Linked DNA regions of Homo sapiens. The protein of the gene in region 2 interacts with the protein of the main gene of each other region in a pairwise test. Each region holds a gene or a part of one and is shown on either strand. Other genes may lie near its edges.

Region 1 (3,500 bases), on a different chromosome or scaffold from region 2:
ATTACATGCATTTGTAAAGCACTTAGTCACAGTGCTTATATAAATGAAAGAGTGATTCTTGGATAGCTTCCAGCCTTGTTGGAATCACATAGCAGGGCAAACTTTTTCTCTAAAGGAGTAGACAATAAATATTTTAGGATTTGCCAGCCACTTCCTTATAGTTATTTCCATGTTAACATGTTCCATGTTAAGGACTTGACAGTTATACCATTTAGACTTGTTAATTTTTTTCTTAATGATAGTTTCTTAATTTTATGGTGAATCATCTAAACCAGTTTTGGAACTAAGTCCTGTTGGAGCTATATAATTTTAAACTAATTCAAGTTTCCATTATACTAGGAATACCTAGAACTAACATGATTGCTCTTGTCCTTCCCAATGGATGATGGTAATACTGATAAGGACTCTTGGTAACCCCGAAGACGGGGTGAATCCATATCCCTTTATTATACACGTAAGCTTTAGTTTTGTAAGTATGGTCAAAATTATCAGATTCCATGTTACGTTAATATCCTTGCTAGGAAGTAAACTGTATAAGGTAAATTGTTGGTTAGAAAACATTTACTTTTCTCTTTCAGTTGAGGCTAAGACGTCTGAAGCCAGGCCCTTTAATGATTCTACTCATGCTGAGCCCTTGAATGATTCTACTCACATTTCTTTGCAAGAAGAAAACCAGTCTTCTGTCAGTCATTGTGTCCCTGATGTTTCTACAATTACTGAAGAAGGCTTATTTAGCCAAAAGAGTTTCCTTGTTTTGGGTTTTAGTAATGAAAATGAATCTAACATCGCAAACATCATAAAAGAAAATGCTGGGAAAATCATGTCCCTTCTGAGCAGAACTGTTGCGGATTATGCTGTGGTTCCTCTGCTGGGGTGTGAAGTGGAAGCCACTGTGGGAGAAGTTGTTACAAATACATGGCTGGTAAGACAACACTAGTGGTTGAAATAAAGTATCGAAGGATATCTGAATGCCAAGAAGGTTAATGTTTATTTCTTAGACAGTTCAGTTACAGTAAATCAATGCTTGGACTTGAACACTCTTGATTTTGCTTTTAGCAAGGGAAATTCAAAATTAAATGTGCAAGCTTCTTGGCCTAATCCCGATACAGTAGAGATTACTGTTTCCCAGGGCCACAGCAGCAACATTCCTTCTTAGGAGGTCACTCTAGGGTCATCTCATACTATTTGTCTTGTTTTCTCATAACCAAAGCATCACTGGTAATTTCACTGTTGATTTTTTTTTTTTTAACATTCCAAGAATTATGAGAAAAATAGTATAAACTAATACATTAGAAGGAATGAAATTTAAAGCAACATTCAGTAACTCTAATAATAGATCTTACCGATTTTAATAGCCTAATGTAATTAGTCGATGTATGTATATGTGTGTATGTATATATATACTCTAACATTATGATATGAAATGTATTGAGAATGAGCATACACAAGTTTGTATTAAAGTAAAATTTCTTCTTATCAAAACTAAATTATTGCTTCTGTACCTGAACCAGTGTTAACCACTGGTTGCTTATTTCAGGTTGGCTTTACTATTTCTTTTGTTTTTAAAAGGTTACTTGCATAGACTATCAGACTTTGTTTGATCCAAAGTCGAATCCTCTCTTCACACCAGTTCCAGTAATGACAGGAATGACTCCTTTAGAGGATTGTGTTATTTCATTTAGCCAGTGTGCTGGAGCAGAAAAAGAGTCTTTAACATTCCTAGCAAACCTCCTTGGAGCAAGGTATGTAATATTTTTAATGCACCTGTTGTATTGGTGTATCTTTTTATTTATTTTGACTTCTTGGAGAGCATTCAAATTAGAATTTGGTTGGGTGTCTTTATTATATTTATGAGTGTTATGTGGTTCCTTCTCCACTCCCACTGCTTCACTTGACTAGCCTTAAAAAAAAAAAGTGCCTCTGTTGTCCAAAGATGAAAACTTAGGTATCATTAGAGGTAATAACTGCAGTGGGTCCAAACACATGAAATAGTGTTTAAGTTGTGACTTCATAATGACACCAAATAAAGTAAGGTAATTGGTCATCTTTGAAAGATGCTAGAGAACCAGTCCATTACTTTGAAAGCTGACAAAAGGAAAGGATCAAGGAATTACCTTGCATTTCCTGTGCAGTTTGCATCAGGGTAACATGATAGTGGATACGACAAAGTTTCCCTTTATAAAGATGTTTCAACAAACAAATAAATAAATAAGGAATGATAAGACTGTAACCCCTAATGAATGAAAGAATCTAGGCATTGAACATCAATAGTCGATCACACAATAAAGGGACAAGACATGATGTGCCTTCTTACAAAGAATACACCACCACTTTGAAGTAGTCTTGCCAAAATAATCAAACCTCAATCTGATGATGCTTCTAGATCCAATTCCCAATTTATAGGAAATGCAAACAGCAGAATAACACGTTAAACTATACTACAGTGATATAATCAGCAAGACCCAGACTTTAGTACAACTCTGGCATAAATGATCCAGTGTCTTCAATGAATATATATTAAGGGCATGGAAAAGAAGGTAGGAACCTATAAGCTAAAAGACTTGAAAAAGCAAAAGCCTAAATGTAGTCTTTAAAGTTGCCATTATTTGATTATAGAAAAGTAAAGAAGTGATTACTATAAGTATCCAAATAGGCCAAGCACAGTGGCTCACACCTGTAATCCCAGCACTCGGGAGGCTAAAAGATTGCTTGAGCTCAGGAGTTCAAGACCAGCCTGTACAACATAGTGAGACCTCGTCTCTATTTAAAAAATAATAAAAAAAAATGAGCCAGGCATGGTGGCATGTGCCTATGGTCCCAGCTACTCGGGAGGCTAAGGCAGGAGGATTACTTGAGCCCAGGAGACCAGGGCTGCAGTGAGCTATGATCACACAACTATACTCCAGCCAGGGCAACAAAATGAGATCCTGTCTCCAAAAAAAAGCCCAAATAGTGGCTACTATTAAGAAGGGAGGGAAGGGGGTTTATATGGCATGTTGGAGAGGTTCTGGGGTAGTTAGCAAGATTCTGTCTTCTGACCTGGGTGGTGGACTTAAGGGTTTCACCTTATAATAATTCGTATAGCTGTATATTTCTTTTTTTGCTGTTTTCTGTTTGAATTATATGAAATAATAAAATTCTTTTAAAACTGAAATTGTGGAAGATAATAACATACATGATGACAGACTCCACTGGATACAGCTAAAGCTGTACTCAGCAGGAAAGTCATGCAAATTCTGAAATAGAATAATTGGGACTAGCCCTAACAGTTATTAAAATATATTTTGTGGCCAGGTCTGGTGGTTCATGCCTGTAATCCTAGCACTTTGAGAGGCCGTGGCAGGAGGCCAAGTTCAACACCAGCCTGGACAATATACTGAGACCCTGTCTTTACAAAAAATTTTAAAAATGAGCCAGGCAATGTAGCATAAATCTGTAGTCTCAGTTATTTGGGAGGCTGAGGTGGGAGGATTGTTTGAGCCTGGGAGGTCAAGGCTGCA
Region 2 (3,500 bases):
TGCCTCAGCCTCCCGAGTAGCTGGGATTACAGGTGCCTGCCACCACGCCTGGCTAATTTTTGTATTTTTAGTAGAGACGGGTTTCACCATGTTGGCCAGGCTGGTATCAAACTCCTGACCCCATCATTCACCTGCCTCGGCCTCCCAAAGTGCTAGGATTACAGGCGTGAGCCACCACACCCGGCCTAGGTTTTTAATAAATGAATGAGTGAATAATTTTATCACACCAAATACTCTATTAAAGAAGTAAAGGCCCTACATTAAAAATTGAAAAAGTCTGCTTCTCCCTTAGGAAGGTTATTTTGTTGTCATATTTATCTTTTGCTGTAATTCCTAAGGGCATAAACTTAATCATTGTTGGCCAGGTGCAGTGGCTCACACCTATAATCCCAGCACTTTGGGAGGCTGAGGTGGGAAGATTGCTTGAGCCTAGGAGTTTGAGAGCAGCCTAGACAATGTAGGAGATGCCATCTCTACAAAACATAAACAGCCAGGTATGGTGGCACATGCCTGTGGTCTCAGCTACTTGGGAGGCTAAGGCGGGAGGATTGCTTGAGCCCGAGAGGTTGAGGCTGCAGTGAGCCATGATTGTGCCACTGTACTCCAGTCTGAGTGTCAGAATGAGACCCTGTCCCTAAAAAACAATAACAACAAAAATTGGCCAGGCACGGTGGCTCACGCCTGTAATCCCAGCACTTTGGGAGGCCGAGGCAGGCAGATCACCTGAGGTGATTTTCACCTGAGGTCAGGAGTTCATGACCAGCCTGGCCAACATGGAGAAACCCTGTCTCTACTAAAAATACAAAATTAACCAGGCATGGTGGCACGCGCCTGTAGTCCCTGCTTCTCGGGAGGCTGAGGCAGGAGAATCACTTGAACCTGGGAGGTGGAGGTTGCACTGAGCCAAGATCACATCATTGCACTCCAGCCTGGGCAAAAAGAATGAAACTCCGTCTCAAAAAAAAAAAAAAATTAGTCACTGCTGGTGGAAGTAGGCTGGCTCGCTGCCACAATCCTGAGTGTGTTGCTGCACCTCCTGCCAGTTAGGAACTGCAGTTGTAGCAGAGAGGGCTTTGGACAAGACAACATAGAACAGGGGTCGCCATACCTCAGGACGTGGGCCAGTACTGGTCCGTGGCCTGTTAGGAACCAGGCCACACAGCAGGAGGTCAACAGCATGTGAGCGAGTGAGCATTTCTGCCCGAGCTCCACCTCCTGTCACATCAGCAGCGGTATCAGATTCTCACAGGAGCGCGAACCCTGTTGTGAACTGAGCATGCCAGGGATCTAGGTTGTGCGCTCCTTATGAGAATCGACTGCCTGATGATCTGAGGTGGGGCATTTTCATCCCAAAACCATCCTCCCACCCCCATCTGTGGAGAAATTGCCTTCCATGAAATCAGTCCTTGGTGCCAAAAAGGCTGGGGACTGCTGGTGTTCTCAAGTCCAGTGTCTTCTACAATTAGATTGTAAGCTCTAGTCTTTTCTAGAGCTCTAGTCTTTTCTCCACCACTTGCTAGCCCTTTGGCATTGTGCAAATTTAATTTTGTTGAGTCTGTTTCTTTTTCTTTTGTTTTATTTATTTATTTATTTACTTATTTTTTGAGGCAGAGTCTCGCTCTGTCACCCAGGCTGGAGTGCGGTGGCACAATCTCGGCTCACTGCAACCTCCACCTCCAGGGTTCAAGCGATTCTCGTGCCTCAGCCTCCCAAGCAGCTGGGATTACAGGCACGCTCCACCACACCTGGCTAATTTTTGTATTTTTGGTAGAGACGGAGTTTCACCATGTTGGCCAGGATGGTCTTTAACTCTGACCTCTGGTGACCCTCCTGCCTCAGCCTCCCAAAGTGCTGGGATAGGTGTGAGCCACCACACCCGGCCCTGAGTCTCAGTTTCTACTTAGCACATCTACTAAAGAAGGGTATGTGGGCGAGATGGTGTCACATAACCCATTGTGAGGGTCAGACCGATGGCACTGGGATGAGGAGGCTCATGGTGAGCAGAAGGTGCAGTGCCCCAGTGAGTCTCTTCTCTTTTTCCACAGTGTAATGTTATTGTTTCCCTTGAAAAGGTCAGATTTTGACCAAAGTCCTTGACTGATTCAGAAGCATGCCCTGACCATTAGCCCTTGAAACCTACAGTTTTTTTTATTTGTAGCCAGGTCTGATGACACCCTAATTTTCTTGATAACTGAGCTGGGGTATTGGCAGGTGGCAACGGCCTGCCTCTCCTGAACTCTTCCATTTGTTGAATCAGGACCAGGTGATGCCATGGACTCCAGCCTATTCCCTAGAAGTAGGACAGAATTCGTTTGAACTCTCAGAATCAAACCATTTCATGCTTTCTCTGTTTCATACCCCTTCTTCCCTTGGCTCTATTTTTTTTCTGGATTTTGCTACAAAATATGTTTCAACTTTATAATTGGAGAGCAAACAGACGTCTGGTATTGTTTATCTCCCTTCTGCCTGTCTTGTCCCATATTGTCAAAAAAAAACACCCAAGTCTCTTTTATTTTAGATGATTGGTTTTTTGCTTTATTCTTAGGATATGGAAGAATCGACCCAAATCCCTCTTTTAACTTTCTGTTATCTCCACACTTGAATGAAAAGCAGTGAATAGCTTGTTTAATTTTTGACTTCATCATATGAATTTCATGAAACAAGGTATCAGAAACAGGAAATTTTAAAGTAGGGCAGAATTGGGTAAACACACATACACACTCTCTGTCTCTCTCTCACACTGAAAACAAGCAGAAAAATATTTTTCTCCCTCCCTTTGTCCAGAGCAACTGTTCATATTCAGGTGAACGACGTGAATGAGTACGCGCCCGTGTTCAAGGAGAAGTCCTACAAAGCCACGGTCATCGAGGGGAAGCAGTACGACAGCATTTTGAGGGTGGAGGCCGTGGATGCCGACTGCTCCCCTCAGTTCAGCCAGATTTGCAGCTACGAAATCATCACTCCAGACGTGCCCTTTACTGTTGACAAAGATGGTAAGAATCGAGGAGCCGGCTTTTCAGCTAGGTAGACAGTCCCTGCTAACCCCACTGACTTTACACCCCAGCTTCTGTGCTTCGTCAGAACTTCATGGAACTCACAAGTTGGAGACCTAACCTGGTGTGTGTTTGCTTTTAATTGTAAAAACATTTAAGTTTCTACTTTGTTCCCTGACAACTTCTTCTCTGGAACCTGTAAGTCCTGTGTTCTCTTGTGGGGCTCACCTCTTTTTTGCTTTCCCACCAAAATCAAATAAAAATCCTCCTACCTGACATGGCTTTGTTTTTTTAATCTTCTTAACTTTCAGTCCACATGCATCTGAATGAGACTGACCTTTACATTTAGTTTGTCTCATTTTCTGTTCTCCATTAAGTTTTTTGTTTTTGTTTTTGTGGTTTTTTTTTGAGACAGTTTCTCACTCTGTTCCCCAGGCTGGAGTACAGTGGTGCGATCTCAGCTCACTGCAACCTCTGCCTCCCGGGTTCAAGTGATTCTCCTACCTT
Region 3 (3,500 bases), on a different chromosome or scaffold from region 2:
TCTTAGTTATTCCAGTATCATTATAGTACATTGAGACCACTAGCAGGGAAATCCATGGGGATTGTCTTAAACATATTGAAGTAGGATTACTAATGCACATGTAATGCTGGTTAGATAAAATTCCAGGCCATTTGTACATTCTAAACTCTTAGTTGACTTAGATGAGAATGGATTCTAAAATCTGGTTTTTCAGATTGAATCCTAATGTAAGTTAAATTGGTATTCTGTTGTTTTTGTTTTGTTTTTTGAGACAGGATCTCACTCTTGTCACCCAGGCTGAAGTGCAGTGGCGTGATCTTGGCTCACTGCAACCTCTGCCTCCTGGGCTCAGGCGAGATCCTCCTGCTTCAGCCTCCTGTGTAGCTGGGACTACAGGCACAACACAGCACCATGTCTGGCTAATTTTTGTATTTTTGTAGAGATAGGGTTTCTCCATGTTTCCCAGGCTGGTCTGAAACTCTCAAGCGACTGGCTCACCTCGGCCTCCCAGAGTGCTGGGATTACGGGCGTGAACCACTGTGGGTATTCCATTTTAAAAATCAGAAGACATAAAGAACTGTTGCCTCCATGTTATACAGCGAGTTTTTAAATGATAAATTAAAGCAGGTTCCTTGCACTTAATGTATATTGAATGTGCAATTGCCAAGCAAGAAAGAATATCTTGTGTGTAATATTGTACGGCAAAGCAGTGGAATGTTTTCTGATAGCTGATGTTTTTTAAAAACTTAAGTTCCTTGTCTTTCTTTTTCTCTTAATCAGGATTCCGGAGTTTGAATCCACCTTTGACAATTGTCCGAAAGACGTTTGAATCAACAGAAAACCCAGATGACTTCTTGCCCTCTGTAATGACTTGTGTGAACTATCTTAAGTTGCCGGACTATTCAAGCATTGAGATAATGCGTGAAAAACTGTTGATAGCAGCAAGAGAAGGGCAGCAGTCGTTCCATCTTTCCTGATCATAGCAAGAAATGCAGTGTCTGCCTGTTACAGCAAAAGAAACAAATCATGATTTCTTTTCTAATGTTATCACCTGAGTCAAGGAAACATGTTACGCCTTCTTGTTGTAGGAAAAACGGCTTGCAGATTATAAAGAGACATTTGGTTGATATTCATTAATGGCCCCATGGACTTAAAGTGATCAGGCCCTAAAACGTTGTTGTGATGAGGTTTCTTTAGCAAGTTCTTGTTTAAATTATCATTTATTTGATGAGTGAAGTTTTTAACATGCTTTGCTGTGTGAAATTTAAAAAAGGGATGTTTTTCCAGGCTGGAACAATAAATGTGGCTGTGCAGTTTAATTCTGGGCTGTGTGTATCCATCTAGCTAAGTCTGCAGTTTTCTTTCCTCCAAAGACAACTCTTGTACATAAGTACAGAAATTTAAGCTCACATGTATTTGACAAATATAGTTTAGTAGACTAGCTCTATGTGCTTTTCACTTTCCTCTGATTTTCTCTCCCTGATTCATTATTATCTGTGCAGCTCACAGTTTTTTTTTTGTATACAACTCACAGTTCTCAAATTTTCGTTACCCATGGGCTTCTGTTGTCCCATGTTCTCTCCAGTTAAGATCTAATTTAAAATTCATTGGATTGAAATTTATTGAATATAATTCAGCTTTTGTAACTAGGTAGACTTTTCTTATAGTTTAGTTTTAATATAGTTTAGGGTATTACTGGCTTTTTCCCAGGTGACACACTAAGGACTGTTTACATGGCAATTCCAGCAGCAACAGCCTCTGGAATGAGACAAGGAAAGCTCATTTGTTTCTTTTATGAAGGTTAAGAAGTCTACAGCTTGGGCTGGCCGGTATTTATTATTCTGTGGCCAGAGGATTTTAAATTAATGTAAATTTTTTAAACAAAATAAGCAGTTTTCCTTCCCTGTTGGAGTAAAAAAATTTTTTTCCCTTTGTTGTTTTACGTTTTTGTTCATAGTCTTCTTTATTCCACGCTCCTCTTCCCCTTCTCCCAGTGCTGACTTGGGACAAAACAGTTCAGCCTTTGTCTCGACGCAGATAAAAGCACCTGTAAGCAATGCTGTCCAGTCATTTTATGTGCTGATTTCTCAAATCTGCAATAATCCATCAGGTTAATGTTTTTACCTGAAAATAAAGAAAGTTTGCTTCACCTTTTTGTTTATAGTTTTGTGCTGTATGCATAACTTTCAATTGTATAGATGTATTTCAATGCAAGGAAATCCACATATCTCCATGATTCGGGTCATGGCTGATTTTGCTATTCAAACAATTTATAATAGCAACTTGAAGAAACTAAAATGTGAAGAGAAAATGGGAGGAGATTCCTTCCTAAGGTCCAAAACTAGGCCTGTGGCATAAATTTGAAGGAATTTTCCATAATTCATCTCCTTGAAAATAAGAGATGAGCTAGTTTTTTTTTTTAATTGAACTTTGAGAAATCAATTTTTTTGACTGTTCTGTAAGTTTTAATTAATTGACACAAAAGCCCTTTTCCCTATCCCACCACCCAAAAGAAACTCAGTGGCTTGTTTGACATAGATTGCTGTGTCAATTTACACTTAAATGGCCTTATATGGAAATGTCCCCTCCTGAGAGTTCACTTGGGCAGTGACCCCATTAAGTGGAAGGGAACTGTCAGAGGAGTTGGGGGCAGAGAATTCTCTCCCTGTCTCTGCAGAGACTGACAAGTGAATGGCTTTTCCCTGAAATCCAAGAAGGGAATTGTGTTTCTGCAGTTTTCACCACTAACAGCACAGTTGCTGAGCAGCTTCATCAAGTGAAGTTAAAGACTGAAACAATTTGTTTTCAACTGTTCTGATATCTTCCTGCAAATTAAGCACAAGGATTTTTGTGTGAACATAGCATTTTGTTCCTGATTTTTAAAGGGTTCTGTTAAAATTTAGACATGTATAAACAAAATAATGTTTCATCTGTACTTGACATTTTATCCATGTTGCAGCCCTGGCAAATTTGGCCTCATTGATTCCAGCATCTAATAAGTATATATGATGATTTTGACTCAAACTCTAAAGTCTTGAGTGTTTCAAAGTCAGTCGTTACCTGTTTAAAAGCCTCAGCCTTTAGCTTATTCCTCCTTCAATACACGGGACCTTTGGTTAATTTGGGGCAGGAAAACTCTTAAAGTAATCTCTCTTGGCAGAGGCCTTATTGCACCAGAGGGAAAAAGTATATACTTCATTTGCTGTTACTCCAGTTATGCCTTAAATTCATTTGCTTGGTAATCCTATCAACGAGCACTAACTTCTTAGTATACTTTAAACACTTAGTTGGGTAACAACTGAGATTTTGTTGTCCTTTATTTTTTGCTGAGATGGAGTCAGTCAGATGTTAGTCATAGCTAACACCGAATTTGTGTTGTCATTTAGACAGTTACTGATTCGATCTGCTTTATATATGAGAACGTATTTTTAACTATTCCAAGAAGGAAGAGGTAGCTAAATGTAATCCCCTCTTCCTATCCCCCCAGAAAACTGAACTGTAAGTTCTAGGTAGACTAATTG
Region 4 (3,500 bases), on a different chromosome or scaffold from region 2:
GTCGGAGCCCCCAGGATGGCCTGGAGGGATGGAAGAATGGGCCTAGTGCAGAGCCAGAGGCCTGGCTTCACCTCTAGGCCTTGCCACAGACATGCCTGCCACCTTGGGCAAGTTACATCTCCTGTGCGGGACCCAGTTCCCTCATCGGTGAAGTGGGCTAACAGTACCTCCTCTGTAGGACTCTTGTGAGATTAGAAGGGCCATCAGTAAAGCTTACAGCCCTCCGTAGGACTCCCTATGTTGGCATTAGTGTCATGCAAATCATTAGAAATCCATATTGAAGTCTGCAACACTCAGAGAGGACTTGGGATCCCCGATGCCATTCCCTGCTCCACCCCTTCCTAGCTGTGAGGCCTTCAGCAGGCCTGAGATTCTCTTCAGGGTCCCTGAGAGCTGAATGAGACTCATCACCTGGAAGAACTTTCTTATTTCTTAGCCAGAAGGGCTCTGTGGGCGTGGTTATTCTAGGGACCCTGGAACAAGGGCAGGGCCACTCTGAGAGCCTCTGGGTGTCTTTGGCAATTGCACAGGCTCTCAGAGGCTGAGCAAGCAGGCCAGGGACCATTGGTCATTTGCCCTTTGGTCTCAGGAGTGGACCACCTGTCGTCCCACCTCTGCTTCCAGGAGTGAAGGGAATATTCTGTGGGGCTCCACCTTGCCAATGCCACCCTGCAACCTTGTCCTGGGGCTGTGTCAGCCACATCTGGAATGGGGGACAGCCGCCCTTTAGAGGCCTCCGCCTGCATTTAGAAAAGGGCCCCCTGGCTCTGGGGCTAGGCTGGAGGTGGTGGTGGGGACAGCGGTAATGCTGCCACCCTCCACCAGGGATCGGGCCAGCCAAGCCAGGCGGAGGGGCTGGTCCTGGGGCACAGACCACAGGCACAGGTTGCAAGGGGGAAGACTCCACCTTCCTGCCCAGAGGTGCCCTCTACAAACCCAGGAGTGGGCCCGACAAGCCGCAAGATTAGGACCTGAGCTGGTATCTTGATTTGAGTGCCGAGGTCTGTCGTATCCTGCCCCACGGCCCCCAACACCAACCTGCATTTTTCTCCCCATGCTCCGCCCCTCTAGCTGGTGAACATCGGCTCCTCCTACAACTACGGCAGCGAGGACCAGGCAGAGTTCCTGTGTGTGGTGTCCAAGGAGCTCCACAGCACCCCAAACGGGCTGAGCTCAGAGTCCAGCCGCAAAACCAAGGTGAGCCCACCCGCCTCAGCCTGTGTCCGGAGAAGTCTCCTGTCTCCCTCCACCCTCCCCGCCTGTCCCGCCCCTGCGCCTGCACCATCCCTCCACCTCTCTCCCGCCACCGCCCATGCACAACCCCATGCTCACAGCCACCGCCATCCATCCCATGCCACCTGCCGTTACCCAGGCCCAGGCTGGGAGCAGTGAAATGAGAGCATCCCCAGGGTGCAGCCGGCGTGGACTCAGAGGCTACATGAAGGGGGCCGCTTAGTGGCCACTGGGCACTGTGGCATGGACTAGGGGTCAGGGCACAGTGTGGCACTCTCTGTGTGACTTAGGACAGGGCTTGTCCTCTCCCAGCACCTTTGCTGCACTCTCTGAAGTGAGAGGGGAGGATCACATACTCTTTGTAGTGCCTTGGAGCCTGGAACTTCTGGGATCCCAAATGGCCGTTTATTCCCCAGGGACAGGTGCATGTCCCCAGCTGGCCTGAGCCAGGATGAGGAAGCCACCGCTGTAAATCCTGCCCCTTTCCCAGGCCCCCTCCTTGGCTGCTCTGCAGGATAGGGGCAGCCTGGTGGCTGCCAGTCCTGTGTGTCCGCCTGGCCTGTTGAGGCAGCCTCCTGAGAGCACCCTGGCAGCATCCACTGTACCACTGTGGGGAGAGGGCTGAGCGGGGGTCCTGCCATCCTGGACCCAGTGCTGTGGGAAGTCCCAAGGGCCTTCGCAGAGCCACAGAGCAGGCGTGAACCAGGCTGGGAAGAAGGCAGGCTGCTCCTCCTGGGGCCCAACCCCACACAGTGGAGGCTTACCTCTGGCTTCCTGTCTATCTGTCTGCCTCCCTGTCCTGCTGTGACGCACCCTGCCTGCCCACCCACCCCCACCACTGCCAGGGCTGACGCTGCCCTGCAAGGGTGCAGAGCGAGACTGCTCCTTCTGCCTCTTTGGGCCAAAGCCCCTGGACCTGGGGTGTCAGAGACTGGCTGGCATCCCAGATCTGGGTGGTGTCTGCCCTGGGGCTTCCTTGGCCACATTTCTACTGAGGAGCAGTCTTTCCAAACAAGGCCTTCCCAGGCACCCCTCAGGGATACCCCAGTCCCACACCCTCCCTGTTCTGCTTCATCCCCTCCCTCCAGCCTCGCTCTATGTAACAGCAGCCAGGCTGACCCCGGAGCATGCCCACAGCATCCCATCCTCAGCTGCTTTCCCCAGGCCCTCCCCAAGCTGCCCAGGGGACCGGAGAAGATGCCCCCAGCTTCTGTGGCTGGAGCCCTCCCCTCTCCTGAGGTCCCTTTCACCTTGCCTGAGACCGGGTCTTTGGGGATAGCCAGCAGGCCCTGGCCCCTCTGTTAGTGTCTCCACTCTTTCTTCCCTGGGTCCGCCGGCTGGTTCACAGAGCACGGAGGAGCAGCTGGAGGAGCAGCAGCAGCAGGAGGAGGAGGTGGAGGAGGTGGAGGTGGAACAGGTGCAGGTGGAGGCAGATGCACAGGAGAAAGGTGCAGCCAACCCCCAGGAGGATGATTGCTAAGCAAAGCCGGAGCCTCCCGCCCACTCCTTGCTGGAGCCAGCTGCAGAACCGGGGGCCCCGGGGCTGCTGGGGGGGCACCAGGGTTAGCTCAGCCACTTGCCTGGCGCCTCACCCGCATAACCATCCCTTCTCTCACTTTCTCTTTGCAGCCCAGTCATCTCAGGATCCCGCTAACCTTTTCTCCCTCCCACCACTGCCTCCTCCTCCGCTTCCCGCTGGAGGTCCTGCCTCATCTTCATCCACCTCTTCTTCCTCCTGGATCTCATCTGCACCCTGCCTCTTCCCTCTCTGCCCCTGTCCGGGTTTTCTCTCTGCCTGCTCACGCCTCCATCCCGGGTCTGCCCTGGTCCCAGCCTCCCGTGCCCTCCACCCAGGCCCCCTGGCCCTGCATCCCAGAGCGTCCTGCCTGCCGCCTCCTGCGCCCCTTCTGGTACCTCCTGCCTCCCAGCCTGGGGAGGAGGGGCGCAGCTGCACCTCCTCTGTGCCCACTAACCCTGCCGGGCACCTCTGAGACTGGGCCCTGGCTGCAGGCCCTGCCCCCCCTCCTCTCCTCCCGGCCTCCTCCTCACGTTTCCTCCTTGCAGGTTCCCGTCCGCACCCTCTCAGACCTGAGGCTGAGCTTGCAGTGAGGGCTTCTCCTCGGCCCCTCGCCCGCCCCCAGAGCTGCCATCCCTGGTTTGTAGCTTGGCGGTGCTGGAGGGAGGGGTGGAGCGAGGAGGGTGCTCATCTCTTGATCCTTGGACTTGAGCCGAGCTTTCGGCTGATTATCTCCACCCACCAAAGTTTC

Evidence for each region. Proteins that work in one complex are often made in the same cells at the same time.
Region 1: the proteins of CLSTN1 (region 2) and TOPBP1 interact in a two-hybrid assay, tested with the Homo sapiens proteins (one large-scale study listed by IntAct).
Region 3: the proteins of CLSTN1 (region 2) and TRIP12 interact in a two-hybrid assay, tested with the Homo sapiens proteins (one study listed by BioGRID and IntAct).
Region 4: the proteins of CLSTN1 (region 2) and KCTD17 interact in binary tests that used the Homo sapiens proteins (3 or more experiments, as listed by UniProt).

The regions. Positions count from the first base shown.
Region 1 is NC_000003.12:133,641,442-133,644,941, reverse strand, and holds part of TOPBP1 (DNA topoisomerase 2-binding protein 1), read left to right. Parts: intron 1-578; coding exon 579-922; intron 923-1,569; coding exon 1,570-1,742; intron 1,743-3,500. UniProt on the Homo sapiens protein: Scaffold protein that acts as a key protein-protein adapter in DNA replication and DNA repair. Composed of multiple BRCT domains, which specifically recognize and bind phosphorylated proteins, bringing proteins together into functional combinations.
Region 2 is NC_000001.11:9,750,966-9,754,465, reverse strand, and holds part of CLSTN1 (calsyntenin-1 isoform 1 precursor), read left to right. Parts: intron 1-2,784; coding exon 2,785-2,993; intron 2,994-3,500. UniProt on the Homo sapiens protein: Postsynaptic adhesion molecule that binds to presynaptic neurexins to mediate both excitatory and inhibitory synapse formation.
Region 3 is NC_000002.12:229,765,010-229,768,509, reverse strand, and holds part of TRIP12 (E3 ubiquitin-protein ligase TRIP12), read left to right. Parts: intron 1-759; coding exon 760-956; 3' UTR 957-3,500. UniProt on the Homo sapiens protein: E3 ubiquitin-protein ligase involved in ubiquitin fusion degradation (UFD) pathway and regulation of DNA repair.
Region 4 is NC_000022.11:37,058,242-37,061,741, forward strand, and holds part of KCTD17 (BTB/POZ domain-containing protein KCTD17), read left to right. Parts: intron 1-1,071; coding exon 1,072-1,197; intron 1,198-2,581; coding exon 2,582-2,681; intron 2,682-2,862; coding exon 2,863-2,934; coding exon of another isoform or gene 2,935-3,297; coding exon 3,298-3,388; coding exon of another isoform or gene 3,389-3,500. UniProt on the Homo sapiens protein: Substrate-adapter for CUL3-RING ubiquitin ligase complexes which mediates the ubiquitination and subsequent proteasomal degradation of TCHP, a protein involved in ciliogenesis down-regulation.